4 linked regions of the Homo sapiens genome follow. The protein of the gene in region 1 purifies or fractionates together with the protein of each later gene. This does not show direct contact. Each region holds a gene or a part of one and is shown in the gene's direction. Other genes may lie near its edges. The genes, in order: PRKAR2B, PRKACB, CDK5RAP2 and AKAP9.

Region 1 (2,647 bases):
TTTCAGGTTTTTTCCTTTTTTTACATTTACAACGTATCAATAAACAGTAGTGATTTAATAGTCAATAGGCTTTAACATCACTTTCTAAAGAGTAGTTCATAAAAAAATCAACATACTGATAAAATGACTTTGTACTCCACAAAATTATGACTGAAAGGTTTATTAAAATGATTGTAATATATAGAAAGTATCTGTGTTTAAGAAGATAATTAAAGGATGTTATCATAGGCTATATGTGTTTTACTTATTCAGACTGATAATCATATTAGTGACTATCCCCATGTAAGAGGGCACTTGGCAATTAAACATGCTACACAGCATGGCATCACTTTTTTTTATAACTCATTAAACACAGTAAAATTTTAATCATTTTTGTTTTAAAGTTTTCTAGCTTGATAAGTTATGTGCTGGCCTTGGCCTATTGGTGAAATGGTATAAAATATCATATGCAGTTTTAAAACTTTTTATATTTTTGCAATAAAGTACATTTTGACTTTGTTGGCATAATGTCAGTAACATACATATTCCAGTGGTTTTATGGACAGGCAATTTAGTCATTATGATAATAAGGAAAACAGTGTTTTAGATGAGAGATCATTAATGCATTTTTCCCTCATCAAGCATATATCTGCTTTTTTTTATTTTGCAATTCTCTGTATTCTATGTCTTTAAAAATTTGATCTTGACATTTAATGTCACAAAGTTTTGTTTTTTTAAAAAGTGATTTAAACTTAAGATCCGACATTTTTTGTATTCTTTAAGATTTTACACCTAAAAAATCTCTCCTATCCCAAAAATAATGTGGGATCCTTATCAGCATGCCCACAGTTTATTTCTTTGTTCTTCACTAGGCCTGCATAATACAGTCCTATGTAGACATCTGTTCCCTTGGGTTTCCGTTCTTTCTTAGGATGGTTGCCAACCCACAATCTCATTGATCAGCAGCCAATATGGGTTTGTTTGGTTTTTTTAATTCTTAAAAACATCCTCTAGAGGAATAGAAACAAATTTTTATGAGCATAACCCTATATAAAGACAAAATGAATTTCTGACCTTACCATATATACCATTAGGCCTTGCCATTGCTTTAATGTAGACTCATAGTTGAAATTAGTGCAGAAAGAACTCAGATGTACTAGATTTTCATTGTTCATTGATATGCTCAGTATGCTGCCACATAAGATGAATTTAATTATATTCAACCAAAGCAATATACTCTTACATGATTTCTAGGCCCCATGACCCAGTGTCTAGAGACATTAATTCTAACCAGTTGTTTGCTTTTAAATGAGTGATTTCATTTTGGGAAACAGGTTTCAAATGAATATATATACATGGGTAAAATTACTCTGTGCTAGTGTAGTCTTACTAGAGAATGTTTATGGTCCCACTTGTATATGAAAATGTGGTTAGAATGTTAATTGGATAATGTATATATAAGAAGTTAAAGTATGTAAAGTATAACTTCAGCCACATTTTTAGAACACTGTTTAACATTTTTGCAAAACCTTCTTGTAGGAAAAGAGAGCTCTCTACATGAAGATGACTTGTTTTATATTTCAGATTTTATTTTAAAAGCCATGTCTGTTAAACAAGAAAAAACACAAAAGAACTCCAGATTCCTGGTTCATCATTCTGTATTCTTACTCACTTTTTCAAGTTATCTATTTTGTTGCATAAACTAATTGTTAACTATTCATGGAACAGCAAACGCCTGTTTAATAAAGAACTTTGACCAAGGCTATAAATGCCACGTACATTATTTTCAGTATTGTTGGTTATATTTAAATTTTCCTTACAATAAAGCACACTTTTATAATAAAATACATGAATTATTGTTTTTCATACTTTTTTGCTTGTTTCTTTAAAGTTTTCTGACGTGCATAATGCATAATTCATTGAAAAGCATGATAGCAATGTGGCATGTGGAAGCGAACCCCCAGGGCATAACATAGTAAGAAAGTATGGTTCTGTATGGCAATAGGTTTTTAAAATTATTAGCTATTCATCATGTGTGGGAGAAATAATTGTGGTGTGTTGCAGATTTATTTGGCCATTTAGAATAACCAAATCAATCTGGCTAACTAGGAATTTATGTGTAAAATTATCTGATTAAAACAGCTCAAGTTTGACTTGTGGATGTCATTATTTAATTATTAATCAACACTCCTTACTATGTGAGAATTCTCTGTTGACCATTCATTCAAGGACAGAGCCTCTCGTGTATCATGCGTGGCTAAGGAAAGGGGTGAGGACTTTTTCCCCAAGAGTGACGGTGCTTTCCCTTATTTTAAATAAAGGTGTGTGTGTGTGTGTGTGTGTGTGTGTATGTATGTGTGTGTGTATTGTTTTCTACATATCCATATGTACTAGGGCTTAGTGCAGATATTTTAACATACACGTTACCTGTGACACAACTTAGGTGAATGTATATGTGTTACCATTAGGATTAGTATTATAAACTCTGGCTAAATGCCATTTAAAATGCTTTAAAAGGCCGGCACCATGGCTCATGCCTGTAATCCCAGGACTTTGGGAGGCTGAGGCAGGAGGATCACGAGGTCAAGAGATCGAGACCATCCTGGCCAATATAGTGAAACCCCGTCTCTATTAAAAATACAAAAATTAGCTGGGCGTGGTGGCATGT
Region 2 (7,469 bases), on another chromosome or scaffold:
GAGGCTGAGGTGGGCGGATCACGAGGTCAGGAGATTGAGACCATCCTGGCTAACACGGTGAAACTTTGTCTCTACTAAAAATAATTAAAAAATTAGTTGGGTGTGGTGGCATGCATCTGTAGTCCCAGCTACTTGGGAGGCTGAGGCAGGAGAATAGCTTGAACCCAGGAGGCGGAGGTTGCAGTGAGTCGAAATGACACCACTGCACTCCAGCCTGGGCGACAGACTGAGACTCCGTCTCAAGAAAAAAAGGAAAAAAAAATAGAAGATTTACACTATCAGATTTCAGACTTACTAGAAAGCTATGGTAATCAAGACAGTATAGTATTGGTGAAAGAATTGACACATATATAGGTCAGTGAAAGAGAATAGAGAGTCCAGAAATAGACTCACACAAATATGGTCAATTGATTTTTGACAAAGGTGCAAATGCAATTCAACAGTAAATGGATATATAAATTGTGGTAATTCCATACAATAGAATTTAGCCATATAAATGAGTGAATATTAAGATACACAACATAGATAAATCACAATTGCCATACTATACTAAATGAAAGAAGCCAATCTGAAAATGTTGCATAGTCTATAAGTCCACTTATATATAACATTCTGGAAAAAGCAACACTATTACCCTAAAACCTTTATTTGAATAGCAGGAGTTATAGTCATGTCATTTGTCCTCTACATGGAGCACATACATCATTTACACATTAAATATGTTTTCATGTTTTTCTTTTATTTAACCTTTAAACTCTAAAGTACATAGTTCTGCTTGGCCCCAAGATGATTGTAAGAAACATGGACAATGAAATTTTATGGCTATAGGTGACCGTCTTAATTAAAACCTTCTCATAGCAGATTTTCAGACCTGGGACAATATATCCAAGAATGAATCTTACCCACCACTATTTTTTCACCCCAACTTCTTCACTCTTATTTGGAAAATAACTGCATTTAAAAATAAAATGTTTACTTCATGTGGTAATCAGTGTCTTGCAGTACAAGAAACCCTGATCTAGGAGTTTGAAGACCTAGGTGACTTTGGGCAAGTCACTTAATGTTTATTTTTTTGCATCTTAAAATAAGGATAATAATACCTGTGCTGCTTACTTTATTTGTAAGGATCTCAGGTGCATTACAGTAATTTCACAATGGTTTTACAGAGTAAATCACTTTATATGTGGTAAAGTGCTTGGTAAATGTGTCATCACTATTATTAAATAAAAGAAACCAATATTTTGTGGTATTTTGTGGCAATTAAAGCTGGTTCAACTCTGAAAATTTCTATAATTTTAAAAATTAATGCAGAATGAAGGAGGAATAAAATCAACCTCATGAAGTTGATTACTCTCTAGTTTTAAAATCTTATTTAACTACAAGATAAGCTATTCTGGTAAATTCTCGGTGCATGGCGAGACATTTAGTGCGAATTAAAGTTGTGGAAACACCGCTAGGAAGAATAACAAGCAATATACTTCTTAAAGTTAATTGCAGTTATGAAGGAATTCATAGTTTTAGTTAAAACTGCAGTTGTTTCTTTCTAGCAGTAGATGCCAGTAGAGTTCTTCTTTTTATTTTTATTTCTTAATCAAAAATCAAATATCCGAAGTACTTCTATAGCAATAGCTTCCTGGTCACATTACCACATATAGAAACATTGCTTTAAATATTAAATATTCTATTTTCTGGAAGGACTTGATAACAAATTGAAACAATTTTATTTTTAAAACAGTGCAGATTTAAAATACGGTGTTTTCAAGATACTCATCTAGTGAAGTTTACTCTTTTTGCTTTAGTAATTTTGTTTTAAAGCTTATGCATTGTTTTAAATAAAGTAATCTTAGTGTTCTAGTTAGGAATCTGCAACTTCTGTACTTGAGCAACATTGAATATAAATAAAAAATCTGGCTAGATGTGTTAAAAATGAATACGGTCCAGCTGAAATGTTACGATTAGTTTGTGTATTTGGCAATGGAATACCATGAGTGTAATACTTTGGGGAGGTTAATATGTCAGAGAGGTGAATGATTAAAGGGGGTAATTGGAAGCGGGGAAAACAAGAAGTTAAGAAGTCCACATTGGCACTGAGTAAAAATGTAATTCAAAGAATGAATAAAATTTAGTAACAAATAGAAAAAAGGAGAAGTTCAATGATAACAGTTCTATTACTCTTGTCTCTATATATGAGCAACTTGGTGCTTCTTGGATTATCTATAAATATGGTCCCATCATAAATAAAATTCAAACATTTTCAAGTATTCGGTGATTCTACTTAGACCTTTAAATTGTTAAAAATGAGTGAATACTTTTTTCTTTTAACATGTTTATTGAGTATGTAATACATGCATTTCATTTATGAATTCAAGTAACTCACAATTTAGGGTCATATAAATTCATAAACAGTACCTTTTAACATAATATTATGAGGTCAGTGAAAACAAAGCAGCAAAGTTTGTTTTCCTAGGAAGTATGTGGCAGACTTCACTGAAGAGGTGACATTTGAACTAAGCCTTGAAGATGATTAGAATTTCCTTCAGTAGAGCAAATCAAGGGAATTCAGTAATTTTATCCACTTCTTCCCTTACAGAATCAGTCCATGCTCTGTAGATATTTGTTGAAGACTACAGACATTTAATAAGTGTCTGTTTTGTGTAAGGCACTACCAGATGTTAAGAAACAAATTATTGTTATGCACACATAATATTTATACATAAAGCTACAAATTTAAGAATTTTGTCATATAGATGCTGTTGCATATTTGTTTAGATTGATAAAAATTTTATTACACAAAACAAAGTATACAGAAATGAGCTGTTACATGGCAAAATTCATTGGTCAGTGTTTTGTTAACTGTTATTCACACATAATATTTATACATAAAGCTATAAATTTAAGTTTATCTTATAGATACTGTTACATACTTGTTTAGATTGATATGAATTCCATTACACAAAGTATACACAAATGAACTGTTAAATGGCAAAATTCACTAATCAGTGTTTTCTTATTGGCCTTTTATGTAGTCCTAATTTGATTACATTATTGTTCCTATTTATTTTACTTATCAGTATTGTTTCTATTTTTTATGTTTGTCAAACAGTTGGCAGTAAATCTGAAGTAAGATTTTTTTAGATAGATTGTTTTAGATAGACCTTTTTCTTTCTTTCCTTTCCTTCCCTTCCCTCCCCTCCCCTCTGCTTCCAAAGAGAACCACGGAAATTTCTTATCCTTTAGTGTCAAAAAAACAAGTACTCAAAATTTTTGTTAAATGCCACAGGTTACTTTCTTTCCTGAAAATTGACAAGGCAAGTTTTACTTACTTTTAATCAAAAGAGATGTTTTGGCCAGGCGCGGTGGCTCACACTTGTAATCCCAGCACTTTGGGAGGCCAAGGCGGGCGTATCGCTTGAGGCCAGGAGTTTGAGACAACTCCTGACCTGGCCAACATGGAGAAACCCCATCTCTACTGAAAATACAAAAATTAGCCGGGCATGGTGGTGCGCGCCTATAATCCCAGCTACTCGGATGTCTGAGGGGCGAGAATCGCTTGAACCTAGGAGCGGAGGTCGCAGTGAGCAGAGGTCGCACCACTGCACTCCAATCTGGGAGACAGAGTGAAACAACGTTTAAAAAAAAATAGAGAGGTGTTTCTAAGTGAGATCACTAAATCAGGGGTTTAGGTAAGTAGTAGTCTTCAGTGGTAAGGTTTTAAAATTAACATGTCTCAGCCAACTAGAAGGAACTTTTTTCTCTCAATTGAAATTTCTTGCTATGGTGGATTTTATATAATTTAAATCTTGTATTTTGTTCTTTTCAAATTTTAGAATGTTTTAAAATGTACCCCTGGTAATAGACATATGTCAGCAGATTATAAGTTTGATAAGCAATACTGACATACTAAGTGTATGTAGTTCCTGTATGTATTAGGCCTAAATCAATGAATTAGAAACATTCAATTTTTTAAAGTGCTATTTCACATTGTTTTATTTATACGTGTTATAAATTTGTTTTGCAAGAGTTTTTTCATACCCATTTCATACTAGTTTTTTTTTATGAAAAGTTAGCTGCTTATAAGGATTCATAAAATCTGTATATTAGTTGATTTCCTAGAAAAAATACAACCTGTCTTTAGCATGTTGTGTTTGGAGGACAGCTTGGCCTTCAGTTGTTTGCATAGACTTGTCATACATGTTTAACTAGTTTTCTTTTTAAAGAATGTTTAGCCTACTATATATATAAAGCTTTATATTTAATGCTCTCATTAGCCTATATATTAATATTAAAACACCCAAACATAAAGCCTTTTAGGCAGATATTGCAAGTTTTTAAAATCCTCAACTCTAGCTGAAAAGTGTTTTGCTAAGAAAAGCTCAGTAATGTGCTGTTTTATATTAACAGGAAACAGAACAGCAGTAGTGGTTTGAATACCCTGCAAACAGGAAGTTTGACACATGCATAGCTCTTAGCTTCTGTGTAAGAAGTTGTGAGCTCCTTCTGGAAACATTTGCAGTTACATTAAGTAAAGTGTAAATGCACATGAATGGCAGCTTATAGAGAACCACCTTGTAACCAGTATACAGGTACAACTACAGCTCTTCAGAAATTGGAAGGTTTTGCTAGCCGGTTATTTCATAGACACTCTAAAGGTACTGCACATGATCAGAAAACAGCTCTGGAAAATGACAGCCTTCATTTCTCTGAACATACTGCCTTATGGGACAGATCAAGTAAGTTTTGTTTTTTAAATGATACATTATAACTAGCAACTAAAATGGTAATTGGAGTTTTACAATCAAACATAAAGAACCCTCTTTTGTTTGTTGTTTTCTGATTTTCACAAGGACATTTTGCAAGATGAAGTTGAAAGAATTCCATAAAAACTTGATTATAAGTTGAGCTGAATCATTCAGCTTTCATCATTGTATGGTTTTATTTTTGACTAAGTTCAATATCAGTGACAAGATTTTCTATAAAATTCTTACATCATTTCTAATGTACTTTTTTTTGTTGTTCTTACATAAAAATGAAATACTTAAGTTTCAGAAACAACCATCTGTTTACTTCTTAAAATGTCTTGTATTTATAAGCTTTAAACTTTGAAAGGGGCAACAAGACTCTTGAATTTATAATTACATTTCTATTGTGTTTGCCATGGTTTTATTTTTAAATGCATGTGAGAAAGTTATTTCAGTTTTACAAACAGGAATTTCTAAAATAAAACATAATTATTCTATCTAAATTCTTACACTTATAACATTATGGATATCAAAAACTTTATAATTATATTTTATGTTATTTATACATATGACTCAAATGCAGGAAAAGTTGGTTATGCATGAATCACATTCTTTCAGGCATGTTAAAATGTTTGAACTTGCAGCTTTGCTAAAATGGTGCTGGGGAACCATTTTTGGTGCCATACACTCTAAAAGATAAATTGCACATATAAACAATACTAGTGCCGCCATTCTACATCTCACCTTGGACCCTCCTCAAGGTATTTCTGTGACTCCAATTAGAGGAACAATAGAATTACCCTTGAAACTTTTGCCCTCTTTGGTGTGTTTGTTTGATCATCAAATAGCACTAGCGTTTGACTCTTTCTGTTTATGTATTTGGTAGCAGTTAAGGAAGAAAACTCAGCTTAACAACCACAACAGCAAAATCAAGAATGGCTTACAAAATTTACTCCTAGGTTTATACAGCACCTTGACAGTGTTATAGAAGCTTATTTGAATTAATTTTTTACTAAATCAGAAATTTTTTTACATTCTTCAAACTATTTTTGGGAGATTGAGGAAGAACATGTATTTGTGCATTTTTTCCACTTAAAAGGTTTTGGGTTATTTATAGTCTTTACTGTATAGCAAGTTGATGGATGAGGAATATGAATATATATCTTCAAGTTAATGAACTGTTGAATATTAAAATAGTGGTATAATATTAAACTTTACCATGTAACAAAAGCTTGTTAATTATTGTCCTTGCCCTATTCTTTTAAATTGCAGTCTTTTAAATCCTTTTGGAAATTATTTTTATGCATTTCAAGTATGTTTTAATTTAAAGTTAAATGAGGAATTAAGACAGAATTGAATTAATTTCTGTTTCATTAATACCTGCTCTTCATATAGTGGGTGTTTAGTAAAAGTGTCTCAAATAAATGAATGTTAGGGGTTTTTAATAATTAAAAGTTATGTTTGAACTAGACTTTCACCACTTTTTAAATGTATGGGATCTGTGATGCTTTCTAAAACATATTTTAAAATCTAGTAATGGAAAATAGTATCATGAGCCATGATTTCTATTGGATAAAATGCTGTTTTGTTTTTTTTTTATTGTGAAGTCAAAACAAATAGGATTCTTGTACACAAATAAAATTAGGAGCAAACCATGTAGCGCTGCAAATAATATGCATGATGTAAGAAATACTTAAAGAGTAACTGAATGTTCATTAATTAAGCATTCCTCTACTTGACTCTCCTTTTTATATCCCTGAATACCATAATAGAGATAATAATTTTATGTCTAAGGATGAGTATGGTAGCATGAAGCTATAATTTCCTATTATGAAATGTATTATTGTAGAGGAGAAAACACTGATAGAGCTGAAATAGAGGAATCCGATCATTTCAAAATTCCAAGGTTTATTTTTGTGGTGAAAACACAATTTTTATTTATTTGGCGAATGAGTTATAGAAGGAGTTCTGACTGTACAAAGTTTCATATGAACCACATTCTTCAAAGCTACTTAAAGCAGTTTACTTGCATGACTCATTTGACAAGGGAATGTAATGTCTCCTGATGATAAACACTGAATATGTTTGTTCCTAAAGTGTTTTTATAATGAAATAAACTAAGCATAGAAACTACATCAATTTACAAAAAAAATTCATAAACCTTTGTATAAAGATCAGTTACCAATTTAGGAGACATGAAATGCAGCATGCTTCAATCCAAGTTTCTTTCGTGTCCAGTGACATTATGTATAGGAAGAAACACAGAACAAAGGCCACATAGTGGTCTCAGGTGTTTCATCTTTTACTATTAAACTAAGTAACAGAAATTCCTGTTTGATTAAATAAATATGTAACAGCTAATTGCATGCACATATAAATACATGAAGTTCAAAGAAAAGCATGGAGGAATTCTGCTTTTTGTTCCAACTCAGAATGAATGAGAGCATTGACATGCGTTAAGTTCTCTTTCTAGCAAATTTATTATAGTTAGCTTTTTAATCTTCCTTTGATCATAAATGTGTAGAGTTATACAATGCTGACTTAATGAAGGTCTAACTACAGTATTTTAAGAAGCAAATAGGTCAATACCATCAAATACTTTTTCTTTCCCTTTTCCTATGAATTGACAGGCTATTTCTCTTGTAAATACAAATCCATTTTAGTAAATCTTAGATTTAAATATATTAAACAAATGAGCAGTTTTGATTATGGATGTCCTCTAGCAAAATC
Region 3 (7,223 bases), on another chromosome or scaffold:
TAAAGCTTCAGGAGGGTTCTACCCAAATGAAAAACATCTGACTGCAAGCTACTTCCTCCCAGCCATTTGATATGACCTTGTCTGAGGAAATAATAATGCCAGCTTTGTGGTTGGGTGGCTGTTGTCAAGGAGATAGCCCCAGATAGCCCAAACAGCTGGTGGTAGTGACGTCACCTCTAGGTTTGGCAGAAAGATCATGGTGAGACAGAGACAGGACAAAGGCCTCTGTCTCTGAACATGAAACCACTACAGTAGCAGGAAAACCAACTTCCAAATAGCCTTTCCTTTGTGCAATTGATTCTATTTTCAGTTTCTAGGTTCACTAAAGGGTTTAGCACGCAACCCAGGGACATGGTCATGCTGAACAAGGCAATGGACTAATCATAATGAGAGATCCTAGGCTGGGCGTGATGGCTCATGTCTATAACCCCAGTACTTTCTGACGCTGAGGTGGGAGGATCATTTGAGCCCAAGAGTTCGAGACCAGCCTGGGCAACATACCAAGACCCCATCTCTACTAAAAATAAACAAATTAGTCCGGCATGGTGGCACCTGCTTGTGGTCCCAGCTACTCGGGAGGCTGAGGTGGGAGGATCACCTGAGCCTGGAAGGTGGAGGCTGCAGTGAGCTATGATCACTCTTATTGTACTCCAGCCTGGTTGACAAAGCAAGACCCTGTGTCCAAAAAAAAAATTAAATAAGTTAAAAAAACAACCCAACTCCTCACAGGTTCTTTCATCTTCAATAATGTCTAAGGTATTCAATTAGATGAGGCAACCATGTGAACTCAGCATTGTCCTCCCCATTTTACACATGAAAATCGAAGTGTAGCAAGGGGAAGGAACCCCAGGTCACAGGATAAATGGGAGGAGTTTCCAGAGTCAGAATCCAGGTGTCCAGACTTCCAGTTCTGTAAACTGCCCACACTAAGATTCACCTCTTAGCCACTTTGAAGCAGTTTCCCAAGGAGTAGAGTCTGGTGAACACAACCCTTAAATACTGTCGTCTGGATGTAGACCTTGCCTCTTAGTACTAAATTCTAAAGCAAAAGAGAAACCCAAATGGGGATGACAGGTTGCCTGAAACAATCAAGGTGTTGGAATTCAAAGGGCCCTGGTCTCAATTCCAGCTCTGGCACTTACCAGCTGTAGGACCTTCAGTAAGTAGTTTTTACCTTTTGCAGCCTCAGTCTTCTCAATTGTAAGTCAGATAGTAGCGCCTCCTGCAGAAGGTTGTTGGGAGGGTTAAATGAGGTGGTGCATGTAATATGCCTGGAACAAGTGACGTATAAGACATGCTCAAAATGTATAAGTTCTCTTCCTTGTTTATATTCTCAAGAGTTTTCATTGGCTGGAGATGCAAAGTTAGTTCTTTCATGTGGGAAGTGTTAGCCTCCCTCCCCAGGAGAGAGTTGGTTGTATGTTAGTAGCTTTGAAATAAACACAGAAGCCAGGCACAGTGGCTCACACCTGTAATCCCAGCACTTTGGGAGGCCGAGGTGGGTGGATCACCTGAGGTCAGGAGTTCGAGGCCAGCCTGGCCAACATGGTGAAACCCCGTCTCTACTAAAAATACGAAAATTAGCTGGGCGTGGTGGCAGGTGCCTGTAATCCCAGCTACTTGGGAGGCTGAGGTGGGAGAATCGCTTGAATCCAGGAGGTTGCAGTGAGCTGAGATCGCGTCACTGTATTCCAGCCTGGGCAACAGAGCAAGACTCCATCTTAAAAAAAAAAAAAAAAAGAAATGTAGAAATCACCTCCAGAGCTGTAACATCCTGAGAGACCCTGAGAGGTTCAGCCCTCTCATTTAACAGATGTAGAAGCTGAGGTCCACAGAGAAGTGATTGGCCAGGCCGGGTGGGGTGGCTCATGCCTGTAATCCCAGCACTTTGGGAGGCTGAGGTGGGTGGATCACCTGAGGTCAGGAGTTCGAGACCAACCTGACCAAGATGGACAAACCCTGCCTCTACTAAAAATACAAAACTAGCCGGACGTGGCAGTGCATGCCTATAATTCCAGCCACTTGGGAGGCTGAGGCAGGAGAATCGCTTGAACCCGGGAGGCAGAGGTTGTGGTGAACCGAGATCGTGCCATTGCACTCCAGCCTGGGCAACAAGAGCAAAACTCCATCTCAAAAAAAAAAAAAAAGGTGATCTGCCAAAGATCACAGAGTTGGTGGCAGAGCCAGGGTGGGAATCCTGACACCCCAACTTCCCTGCTTTTGGACACACCTATCTCATGGGTTGAACTTACTGGCAAGGAGTATTGGTTCCTGGGCTTCAAGGACTGCCCCGTTCCTGAGGCAGTGCACCAGGTGTGCTAAGCTTTCCCTCTTTTTCATGCTTTTATCATTGCTAATTGTGGGTGTGGTTGAAGATCTAGAGAAAGAAGGGGGACAGGCAAATAATCGCGGGCTTTGGAAGCCTAACTAAAGCTGAGAGAGAGACAGAGAGAGAGAGAGAAAGAGAGAGAATGAATATGAATCTGGGATACACAGAATTACTATTGACAGAGGTCCTAAAAGTATCTCTGATTATTCTCACAAAAACCTTGCAGGATAGGTATTGGCCTTATTTCCAGACTGATTGATTGAATCACTCATTCATTTAACATACATTTTCAAATAGCTGCTGAGTGGCAGACATAGTGCTAGGTGTTGAGGATATAGCAGTGAACAATTCAGAATATAGTCCCTGCCCCATGCAGCTTCCAGTCTAGTGCAAGGAAAGACATTTAAAAAATGATTTTACACACACACACACACACACAAATTGCAAAATATGGTAAGTGCCACAAAGGAATAATTTGCATTGCTAGGAATACAAGAAGTGGCTTGATTTAGATTAAATGACTAGGGAAGGCTTCTTTTGAAAAGTATCAATAATTGGTTAATTACTTAACTGAAGAATGAGGGCCTGGTGCAGTGGCTCAGGCCTATAACCCCAGCACTTTGGGAGGCCAAGGTGGGAGGATTGCTTGAGGCCAGGAGTTCAAGACCAGCCTGGGCAACATAGTGAGACCCTGTCTCTATTTAAAAAAAAAAAAAAAAGAATGAGGAAACAGGGTGAAAGGGGAATTGTTCAAGATTACTGGGAAAGTCACTATCTATCCACTCACCAACCATTTCAAGTTATTTTCATCGGGCTCTCTCACAAGGGCCTGCAGAGGAAGGAGCAACACTGAGTTGAGGAGGGGAAGGTTAATTTCATTGCTTAAGCTCTGCCAAGATTATCTAAGTGTTTGGTGATTGCTATGTGCTTTAAGAAAGGCAGCCAAGGGGCCGGTGCTGTGGCTCACGCCTGTAATCCCAGCAGTTTGGAAGGCCGGGGTGGGCAGATCACGAGGTCAGGAGATTGAGACCATCCTGGCCAACATGGTGAAACCCCGTCTCTACTAAACATACAAAAATTACCCGGGTGTGGTGGCGCAAGGCCGAGGCAGAAGAATCGCTTAAACCCAGAAGGTGAAGGTTGCAGTGAGCTGAGATCGGGCCACTGCACTCCAGCCTGGCGACAGAGGCACCATTTCAAAAAAAAAAAAAAAGAAAGGCAGCCAGGGTTATGCAGAGAGCCCTCATCTAGTTGGCAGGAGCTGCAGACCCCCACTCCAGTTGAAAGACATTGTCAATACTTAATTACTTTGGGAGAGTCCTTTCCTCTTGCTGGCCCTCAGTTTTCTGACCACAGGTGCCTTTGAGTCCTAATGGTAATAAAAGACCAATAGGTGAGAGACTGGAGTGGGAGTGCTGTTGACCACTGGCTCATGGGAATGAGTTATTTGCTTCAAACTAAGTCTGCAAATTACTGTTTGCCTTGAGATTCCGCACGTAGTATTTTTCCAAAGCAAGGCAGCACTCAGTTATCTGAGTTTCAACTTAAGGTCAAATCCCAAAGTTTTGGGGTCATTATTCTAGAAAAGCAAACACGAGGTTAGGAACTTTGAGGATTCCTGAGTGGCTGTATTCATTTCCATCTCCCGCGTAAATTAACGGACTAGGGCCCGCTTTGGCCCTCAACAAAGATGGCACCCGCCCTCGCCTCTCCCTAAGTGCCCTCACAAAAAATGGCAGCCGGCCTTTTTTTGTCTCTTATTTTTGCTTGGCTTAAGCACGGATGCTTTGCCCTTAGTTAAGATGGCACCTATCCCCGCTTCCCTGCCCGTCCTCTGGCGCCAGCCGGTCGGCTTCACTGCGTGCGCCTCCGTGACCCCGCCTCGTTTCCGTAGGAAGAAGCGCCGGGAAAGATGGCGGCGTCTGTGGTTTGAATTCCAGCGGCGCCGCCAGAGTCTGAACAAGAGCTGGGGTGGAGGGGGCGGGGACCTGGGGAGCCCGGCGGGTCGCTATCGCGGGGGGTACTAGTGGCGCCGCCGCCACAGACACCAACGCTGTCGCCACCTCTGTAGCCATGATGGACTTGGTGTTGGAAGAGGACGTCACCGTCCCTGGGACGCTCAGCGGCTGCAGGTGCGGCCGGGGCATTGGTGGTCGTGGTAACCGGGCCGGGGTTCCAGCTGGTGGGATTTCGTTCTAACGCGGCCTTGGGGTTTGCTCTTGAGGGTGTCTGGCCAGGGGCAGTGTGTGGGGTGGGTTCCTTCGGAGAGGGTCTCTGGGGGGCCCACCACCTGACACTCTGGAGGGCTGGGAGCCGCGACCTGCACCACAATTGCCAGTAGCATTGCGCCATGTACTTTGTAGAGCGTGTGAAGAACAGGTAAGGAGTTTTCTGAAAGAGTAGGACGAGGGTGGGGCCACTTGGAGTATCCCGTTAGTGGGGATTGGTGGAGAACAGGGACCTTGAGGGCACCTGATGGTTCCTTCTGGTTTGAGAGTTTGTTTTCATTATGGAGAGAGTGTAGCCGGTATGCCCAGACTTTGCTTTTTGGGTCACATAGTGGCCACCCAGGAGGCAATGGAGTGCAATGATTAAGAACCTTGGCTAGAGTTGGACAAAACTGGATTCAAATCCAGCCCTGTAAACTGACTAGCTGTGTGACCTTGGTAAAGTGATTTCACCGGCTTTCCCATCTGTAAAATGGGCTAGTAATATCCACCCAACAGAGTTGGGGTGAGGATTAAAAGAGGTGATGCCTGTCGAGCCATTTGCTTGGCAGGTGTAGTGCCTGCCACATAATCAGTGCTTAAAAAATGATCTTGTGTTGCCATTAGTGTCATTATTACTACTGTCATCAAAGGTGATATGAATCAGGGAATAATGGCCAAGAGTGGCCTCCCATGGACCTGCCCCAAGAGACTGTGGGAGTCCCCATTGCTGGTGGAGCTGGGGTCTGGTAGGAAGGCCTAACAGAGCGCAACTCTGCTCCACGGCTGGCCCCTGTGGTTGTCCTAGACTCCTGGTTGGAGAGTGAGTAGAGGGAAGAGGAGGAGAGCCCTGACGGAGAACCTGCACTGTTTATCCAGCTCTACTATGGACAAGCTGCTGCTTTTAGTCAACAGATCCTAATTGAAAGGGTGACCATGTTATTTATTGTGCTAACTGGGACACTTAAGAGTGAAAAGAGCCAGGTGCGGTGGCTCACCTGTGTAATCCTAGCCCTTGGGGAGGCCGAGGTGGGCCGATTTCTTGAGCTCAGGAGTGTGAGATCAGCCTGGGCAACATGGTGAAATCCTATCTCTACAAAAACTACAAAGATTAGCCAGGCGTGGTGGCATGCACTTGTAGTCCCAGCCGCTCGGGAGGCTGAGGCAGGAGGATTGCATGAGCCCGGAAGGTTGATGCTGCAGTGAGCTGTGTTCATGCCACTGCACTGTAGCCTGGGTGACAAAGTGAGACTCTATCTTTAAAAAAAAAAAAAAGGAAAGTGAAAATAATTAATATTTATGCCCGGGCAGCAGACATAAAGAGGGCCTATCTTGGGTAAACCTGGACAAATGGTTTTTCTGTTTATTGAGAACCTTCATGTATGAGGCACAGACTAAGATGCTTTGCAGTTCCTGTCTAATTGGGTCCTGTGATATTTCATCATGCCCTTTTCTATCTATTTTACATCCACTGCCCCAATATATTGGGAGTATGGCTTCTCTCTTGTATTGTCCTTTGCACCTCTAATAGTTTTTTATACTACAATTTGAAAACTATTTTTTATTTATTTATTTTTTTGAGACGGAGTCTTGCTTTGTGACCAGGCTGGAGTGCAGTGGCGCGATCTCGGCTCACTTCAACCTCCGCCTCCCGGGTTCAAGCAATTCTCCTGCCTGAGCCTCCGGAGTAGCTGGGATTACAGGAGTGCACCACCGTGCGTGGCTAATTTTTGTATTTTAGTAGAGACGGGATTTCACCATGTTGGCCAGGATGGTCTCCATCTCCTGATCTCATGATCTGCTCTCCTTGGCCTCCCAAAGTTCTGGGATTACAGGCGTGAGCCACCGCGCCCGGCGTGAGAACTATTTTTTAAATATAAATCTGCTCTTCACAGTCTGCTGCTTTATACTTTTAATGCTGCTTATTGCTGTTATCATAACTTCCATTATTATTCTCTCAGATAGCCATTCTTATTTCAGTGCTTTTTGGCCAGACACTTGGGTTTTGGGGTCCCAGGCCTAGCTGGGTTTTAATCCCAGTTCTGCTACTTAACAACCCCTTGATCTGGGGCAAGTCACTCATCATCTGTGAGCCTCAGTGTTTATCATCTGTAAAAGGGGTTGGTATAAAGCCTAGGGTTGGCATAAGGATTAAAATGAATCTTAAAAAGTTTAGCTCAGTGTCTGACCCAGAGTAACTACTCAACAGATCAGCAAATATTCTCCTTTCCCTCATCTCCCTGCCTTTGCAGGACGTAGATACTGCATACATTCCATCTTAACCATTTTAAAGCATGGTTCAGTTGTATTAAATATATTTGTATTATTGCTCAACGGTCACCACTATCTATCTTCGTAACTCTCCATCTTGCAAAACAGAAACTGTGTCCCTGTTAAAACAGTAACTCCCTATTCCCCCCTTCTCCCAGCCTCTGACAATCACCATTCTACTTTCTGTCTCTATGATTTTTTTTTTTTTTTTTTGAGACAGGGTCTCGCTTTGTTGCCCAGGCTGGAGTGCAGTGGAGTGATCTTGGCTCACTGCAACCTCCGCCTCCAGAGTTCAAGCAATTCTCATGGTTCAGCCACTTAGTGGCCGGGACTACAGGCATGCCCCACTACGCCTGGCTAATTTTTGTATTTTTGGTAGAGACGGGGTTTCACCAGGTTGACCAGGCTGGTCTTGA
Region 4 (6,953 bases), about 15 Mb from region 1:
CCTCATTTTACGTGACCTATTAGTAGCAGTTGTCTTGGTTCATCACTCCCTCCTCCTTCACTTTCTTCGCTTGGCTACTGATTCCTTTCACATATCTAGCCACTGTTCTCAGTCTCATTTGCAGATTCTGCTCACCTTGCCTCCCTCTTAGAGTTGAAGTATTCCAAAACTCAGTCTTTGTAACACCTTTCTATCTAAACTTGCTCCTTAAAGCAGCATGGTCCAATAGAAAAATAATGTGAGCCACAAATGCAAGCCACATATGTAATTTGAAACTTTGTAGTAACTTCATTTAAAAAAAAAAGAAACTGGTGAAATTAATATATATTTTATTAAACCCAATAGGTCCCAAATATAATCATTTTAATAATATAAAAATAGTGCAATATTTTGTTATTTTATTTTAATATTAAGTCTTCCAAATCCAAAGTGTTACACTTACAGCACATCTCAATTCAGACTAGCTAATAGCTGTTGTATTGAATAGCATGGCCCTAGATTATCTCATCCAATTCCTTAACTTAAAATACCATCTACATCCTGAATACTGACTACTCTCACATTTCTATTTCTAGCTTGGACCTGTCTCCTGAATCCAGACTAACTGATGTCTTAGGGTGACATCAGTTCTTGGATGCCTAATGTGTATGTCTAAATTACCATGTCCAAAACTGAACACTTGGTCCCCAGATTTTCTCTTCTCCATTTTGGTTACTGGCAACTTCATCACTTCAGTTGCTCAAGCCAAAAATGTTGGAGTCAACCTTGACTTTTCTTTTTGTCTCAAACCTCATATCCAATATACAACTCCTATGATACTATTGGTTCTATGTTCAAAAGATATCCAGAATCTGATTCCATATCTTTTCCTCCACTACAGTACTATGGCCCAAATTCCCATTATCTGGGATTACTGAAATAACATCCAAACTGATCCCCCTTTCTCCTCATAGCAGCCAAATGTCCGTGAACAACATAAGCCAAATCATGTCATTCATCTGCTCAAAATTCTCCAATGGCTCCTAATCTTACCCAGAGTAAAAGCTGAAGTCCTTACAATGACCTTTAGAACTCTACAGGATCTGAAGCCGGGCATGGTGGATCACCTGTAACCCCAGCACTTTGGGAGGCTGAGGCGGGCGGATTGCTTGAGCTCAGGAGTTTCAGACCAGCCTGGGCAACATGGTGAAACCCTGCCTCTACAAAAAATACAAAAATAAGCTGGCTATGGCAGAGTGCGCCTGTGGCCCCAGCTACTCAGGAGGCTGACGTGGGAGGATTGCTTGAGCCCGGGAGGTTGCAGTGAGCCAAGATTGGGCCACTGCATTCAGCCTGGGTGACACAGTGAGGCTCCGTTTAAAAAAGAAAGAAAGAAAGAAAGAAAAGAACTCTACAGGATCTGGCCCCCTGTTACTTTTCTGACTTCATCTCCTACTATTTCCCTTGTTTATTCCACTCTAGCCACCCTCACCTCCTACTCTTCCTTGAGAAGGTCCATCATGGTCTCGCTTGAGGGCCTTTCTTTGGATTTGCTGTACCCTCAACTATCTCCGTGGCTCTCTACCCCCACCCACCACCTGCTTGTTTTTTGGGACAGTGTCACCTGTTGTCTAGGTCCTTACTCTAGAGTGCAGTGGCACAATCTGGGCTCACTGCTTTGGCCTCCCGGCCTCAAGTGATCCTCCCGCCTCAGGCTCTGGAGTAGCTAGGACTACAGGCTCCCGCCACCACACCCAGTATTTTATTTTTATTTATTTATTTATTTATTTTGTAGAGACAGGGTTTCGTCATGTTGCCCAGGCTGGTTTCGAACTCCTGAGCTTAAGCGATCCACCCCGCTCAGCCTCCCAAAGTGCTGGGATTACAGGCGTGCACCACCCCGCCCAGCCTCCTCATCTCTTTCAAGTCTTTGCTGAAATATCTTCTGAAAGAATCACCTGAGTAAGTGAATGACATGACATGAATTAATGATTGGTATGACAAGTTATGACAGAATAGGTGCCATAAGGAAGAGTCAGAACACTAGTGCCCAATGCTTGCTCTTCTAATAGAAGTTAACACAAATCTAACTTTCAACATTGATTGAGCACCCATTATGTAAACTAGACATGTATATGATTGGCTGCTATCAGTGAAGGAAACATTGAAATAATCTTGTTGCTTTGGAAGGTATTCTTGAACATTCTCAGCACCTACAAACAGCTGACTTATTTAGTCACCGAGAAAGCAGTATCCTTTAACAAACAGGAATAGCTTTGGATACCCTGGGGCTTCCCCCTCCTAGGCAATCAGCATCTACACTCATAATCCCTCAATCCAGGCAGTATTTAAATCACTGCACTATTAGAACACTTAGTTCTAGTCCTTACTCTTAATTTGATGGGTGACTAAGTAAATCACTTATTGCCTCAATTCTTTCATCCCTATGATAAAATGTCTAATTTTACCTGGTTCCTAATTCAGGTTGAGATAACAGGACAATATGCACTTGGCTGTTAGAAGTTGGCAGAATGTATGCATTACGGAGCTTAAGAAAAAAATCTTTTTTAAAGCTAAGATTTCTAAATGAGGGCTATTTAAAACTCATCTTCAGTTTGTGGTAGACTTAAGGTCTTTATTATCTCCTTTTTTGTTTTTTAACCTCAATTTTTCACTTAACACCACTTCTACGCTTGAACTCATTTTAGCCTATTTTTTGTTCACAACTGCTAGTTTTTCAGTCCAACCTAGCTCAAAGCAACGGAGAAACATGATAAATCTGAGTAATCAACCAGAGACATTAAAATGTGTAGTTCACTCCAGGAATGGATGTGAGCATTGGAGGGCAGGGAGACGAACACAAAGGACTGAGGGAGCACATGTCGGGGAAACAAGGAAAGATAGTAATGTTAAATTTATAAACACTGCTCAATTCAATCCAAAAAGCGTTTATTGAGTGCAGAGCTCTGTGCTGGTCATTTTAGTAAAGCCAAGATGAGCAAGACTTATGATGAGTCTCTGTCATCAAGGAGCTGGGAGTATGAGCTGAACTAAGACGCACACAAATTATTAAAATATGGTGCAGGGTACTTAAAGGAAGTCCAAGGAGAAATAAAGCTGACATTATTCAGGACGTTTTAATATGTCAGGGCAGTCACATATATTAACAACCCTTCCAAAAATTCCAGGTAGGCTCAGGGAGGATAGGTAACTTGTCATTAACGCTAGAAAGTTAGTGTAGTCTGGCATTGTCCCTAACCGAGGTTCTAAAGCTCAGGCTCCTTTCAGAACACTACTGTTAAAGGGAAGCCCCAAAGAGTCGGGGGAGGGGACTAAGTTTTGACTGGATGTGTCTCGGTTGCCGTGGAGGGAACAAGAGGTCAGAAAAGCCATTTGGAGGCAGCGTGTGCGATGGGACTATAAGGATGAACCGGAGATTGAGTGGGAACCAGTGGAGGGAAGAGGGAGGGACTTTTCAGGCTAAGGAAGTAATAAGAGCAATTAGCTGCTCTCATAATTCTTGAGTCAAGCAGTTAATGTAGGTAGAAAACCTGGCGTCCGCCCCCCCACCACCCCCCACCGGAACTTTTCCGTTGGAGCTTGTAGGTGTTCGCCAATTTCACCATTAGGTGTGTTAGTTTTGTAACCTGAAGGAAAAAAAAAACTCATGTTTTAATAGCAGTGGATTCCTCGGACGGAGGGTGGGGGTCAGGCCAGGAGCCTCTGGCACACTCCGTCTCTCCTACCCCTCAGCTCGGCCGCCACCTGTGAGCCGTTGATGTGCGGGAAGGGCGCTCTCTACGGCGGGATCCTCGCTGGTAGGAGGCAGGTCCCAGGCCTGGCAAGGGTTGACCCCGGAGGGCTGGGCCGGGGCGGCACCCCAGGAGCACCTGCCCACGAGGCGGCTGCGCGGACAGACGTTCCAGCCCCTCCCGCCTCGCCGTGTGTTTACGTGGAGACGAAGATGGCGGCGGCGGCGGCGGTGACGGCGCTTCCCGTGCGGCTGAGGACGATCCGCCAGTGAGCGCGGAGACTGCTTCCACTTCGGGCGGGGGAGCGCCGGACCGAATCGGCTCTCTAGGCCGTGGAGCTTGCCGTCCCACCTCCGTCCAAATCGACCTTTCCTTTCTATCCCCAACCACCCCTCAACCCCTGTTTTCCCCTGCCTTCCTTGCAGAGGCCATGGAGGACGAGGAGAGACAGAAGAAGCTGGAGGCCGGCAAAGCCAAGGTAGGAGAGCCCGAGGCAACCGGGCCTGCGGTGGGAGGCGGTGGCTAGCACGGGGTGGGAGGGGGCCTGGGAAGCGGAGTTCGCCGCAGCCCCAGTGCACTGCCCGAGAGGGAGGTGCTGCAGGGTCTTAGGGTCTGCATCTCTCCTCGCCCTCCTCCTTTCCCCTTTTTCCAGTTGGGGGACAAAGCCTTGTGCTAGCTGATAATACTTCCGCGAGGATTGAATATTGTGGCTCCTTTCTCGTGAATGTCCAAATAAAACTCCCCTTTTACTGTATTGCTGTAAACTAGTGTTTAGTTGCTTCTAAACCTCCGATCTTTCATTTTTTTAAGGAGTTTTCTGGGTGGTGCAGGCATTGTGCTTTCCAGGGTGGGGATTTAGGGCTTTTCTTTATTGGGTTGGGGATTTGTGCGCTGATCATCAGCTTGTCTTCCTTAGGTAGCACGCTGGCACTCTTGGGTGTGTGTGATTGGCCTGTGACAGCTGTCTCAGCAGTGGCTTGTGTGTGCCACAAGTGCCAGCTGTGAACTTGGCTTTAGGGGCGTTTTTAGAAGCGTGTCTTTGTATGTTTGTACTTGAAGGTCTTTGTCATGGCATGCGCTTTTGTGTCCTATGGAATGTTAATGCAGTCTGTGAATGGAACTTCTGAGGACCGAAAGGTTCCATATGCCAACACCTATAGAATTCCTGCTTTAAATAATTTAGTTGTTATATATCTCTCTGGCGAATCCTGGTTGTGTGTGTGTGTGTGTGTGTGTGTGTGTGAACGGTTATGGAAAAGCCTGTAAAGCAAACAATACAATACACAATTATACACAGGCATCGTTCATTGGGCTTCATGAGAAATTTAACATATACAGAATATAAGCTGCGTAGCATATTTCTTTTAAAAATTACATATTTGAGCATATATTTTGTCTGGGCTCAAAAGCCCCCTTCCTCCCTTCAATGAAGTCTTCTTTTATGGATTATATTATTTTTAGAGATAATTGTTAGCAGTCATACTTGGACAAAAATTGTATTACAGGTAACTGTTTTTCCTCTCTTCCTTTCTCTTCTCCTCACATAAACAAAGGAAACCAGGTTAGTGATTTATTATCAATGAAGGGCCATACCGCAGAGATGCAGTGATAGAAGCTCAACACAAGTTTGTTAAATGAATATATATATAAAAACTAGCTTCATATTTCTAAAATATAGTTGACTTTCCTATAAGCTCCCTCTATTTAAGATCAAGGTTTAAATGCTTGTATATAGCCAGGTAAATTTTTACTTTCGAATCTATAAATGGTGGGAAAGGGGAATCAGGGTATCTTTAGAAGTCCAAAGCCTACACTTGTGCAATCTGAGGGGCTGAGCAAGCTCTATGCATCTACGGAAGTAGTGGAGGTGAAGTGTGTGCCCCTCCAAAAGCATTGAAGATCTGATTAGATGTCTTACTTGTCTGTTACCTCACAATTTTTATTGCCTGCCCCCAGAAATGTCTTTCCTGAATATATGTGAAGCAGTCCTACAAAACATGGTTTACTTTGGACATACACATTTCATAATAGAGGATTTATTTAAATTGCTTGCAGTTGTAGTTGATGTGGCAAAATACAATTCTAGTTTCTTTGTGTGTTTCTTTATCTTTCAGAATTCTATGTATGGGGTAAAAACCTGTTTAAGGTGAATTTTTGTTGTAAAAGATTATCTTCTTTTAGAATTTAGCCCTTTTTCCAGTAAGATATAAATCTATGAGACTTGTAAGGCAAGGTGTGTTTGCTGCAACATTAGCTATACAATATAAAAATGCTGACATTGGGAGCCTGGGGCGAGAGGATTGCTTGACACCAGGAGTTCAAGACCAACCTGGGCAACATAGTGAGACTCTACAAAAAATTAAATAAAAAAAAAAAATAGCAGGGCATGGTGGTGTGCGCCTGTATGTAGTCCTAGCTACTCAGGAGTCTGAGGTGGGAGGATCACTTGAGCCCAGGAGTTCGAGGCTGCAGTGAGCTATCATCATGCTACTGCACTCCAGCCTGGGCAACAGAATGAGATCCTGTTTCAGAAAACAAACAAACAAAAAAAAACCCCTGGAAATAACTTTTAAAGACAACACGAAGGGAATCATTTTCTAAGTTATATAAATATGATGGAATATTTTAAAGCCATTAAGATTATGAAGACTGATAGGAATATGAAAAATAGTGTGAAAAGGGCATTATCAAAAATAGTATGTACATTATTTCATTTGTATAAACGTGTGCTTTCAGATTAGAACTGAAAAACTCTGGATTATAATTTTATTCAGCAAACGTATATTGAATCCCTATTTTATACCTAGAGGTGGTGACAGTGTCTGCTCTCAAGTTGCTCACTGTTTAGTGGGAGAGACAGACTCTGGGTGATAAGTACAAAGAGGGATGAGCTGCAGTAGGATTTGGGGGATATTCTTCCACGTTTTGTTAAAGTGTTTTAAATACTACTATGTCATTTTATAGAATTACTAAGAAAGCTTTACTATTGATATTAATGCACCATAATATAATGCCTTTCAAATAGTTATTCATACATATTTGCTTAATGAATGAACAGAATGATTAATGAGTCATTAATAAGTGTTACTTTCCTAGCACGGTTGTAATTTAATAACATTAATCTAGAATTCTCTTAATGTGAAATCCATATTGCTGGCATCAGAAACAACTTTAAATGATCATTTTCCAAAGTTTATCTGAGACTTCATTCTGCAAATGTCT

Evidence for each region.
Region 2: the proteins of PRKAR2B (region 1) and PRKACB purify together in Homo sapiens (affinity purification with mass spectrometry; 9 studies listed by BioGRID and IntAct, with this or other methods). This does not show direct contact.
Region 3: the proteins of PRKAR2B (region 1) and CDK5RAP2 purify together in Homo sapiens (affinity purification with mass spectrometry; 5 studies listed by BioGRID and IntAct, with this or other methods). This does not show direct contact.
Region 4: the proteins of PRKAR2B (region 1) and AKAP9 purify together in Homo sapiens (affinity purification with mass spectrometry; 5 studies listed by BioGRID and IntAct, with this or other methods). This does not show direct contact.

What each region holds. Positions count from the first base shown.
Region 1 is NC_000007.14:107,159,680-107,162,326, forward strand, and holds the end of PRKAR2B (cAMP-dependent protein kinase type II-beta regulatory subunit), read left to right. Parts: 3' UTR 1-2,132; downstream 2,133-2,647. UniProt on the Homo sapiens protein: Regulatory subunit of the cAMP-dependent protein kinases involved in cAMP signaling in cells. Type II regulatory chains mediate membrane association by binding to anchoring proteins, including the MAP2 kinase.
Region 2 is NC_000001.11:84,139,819-84,147,287, forward strand, and holds the start of PRKACB (cAMP-dependent protein kinase catalytic subunit beta), read left to right. Parts: upstream 1-4,452; 5' UTR 4,453-4,543; coding exon 4,544-4,730; intron 4,731-5,457; exon of another isoform or gene 5,458-5,500; intron 5,501-7,469. UniProt on the Homo sapiens protein: Mediates cAMP-dependent signaling triggered by receptor binding to GPCRs.
Region 3 is NC_000009.12:120,577,158-120,584,380, reverse strand, and holds the start of CDK5RAP2 (CDK5 regulatory subunit-associated protein 2), read left to right. Parts: upstream 1-4,213; 5' UTR 4,214-4,402; coding exon 4,403-4,461; intron 4,462-7,223. UniProt on the Homo sapiens protein: Potential regulator of CDK5 activity via its interaction with CDK5R1. Negative regulator of centriole disengagement (licensing) which maintains centriole engagement and cohesion. Involved in regulation of mitotic spindle orientation.
Region 4 is NC_000007.14:91,936,939-91,943,891, forward strand, and holds the start of AKAP9 (A-kinase anchor protein 9), read left to right. Parts: upstream 1-3,923; 5' UTR 3,924-4,161; coding exon 4,162-4,209; intron 4,210-6,953. UniProt on the Homo sapiens protein: Scaffolding protein that assembles several protein kinases and phosphatases on the centrosome and Golgi apparatus. Required to maintain the integrity of the Golgi apparatus. Required for microtubule nucleation at the cis-side of the Golgi apparatus.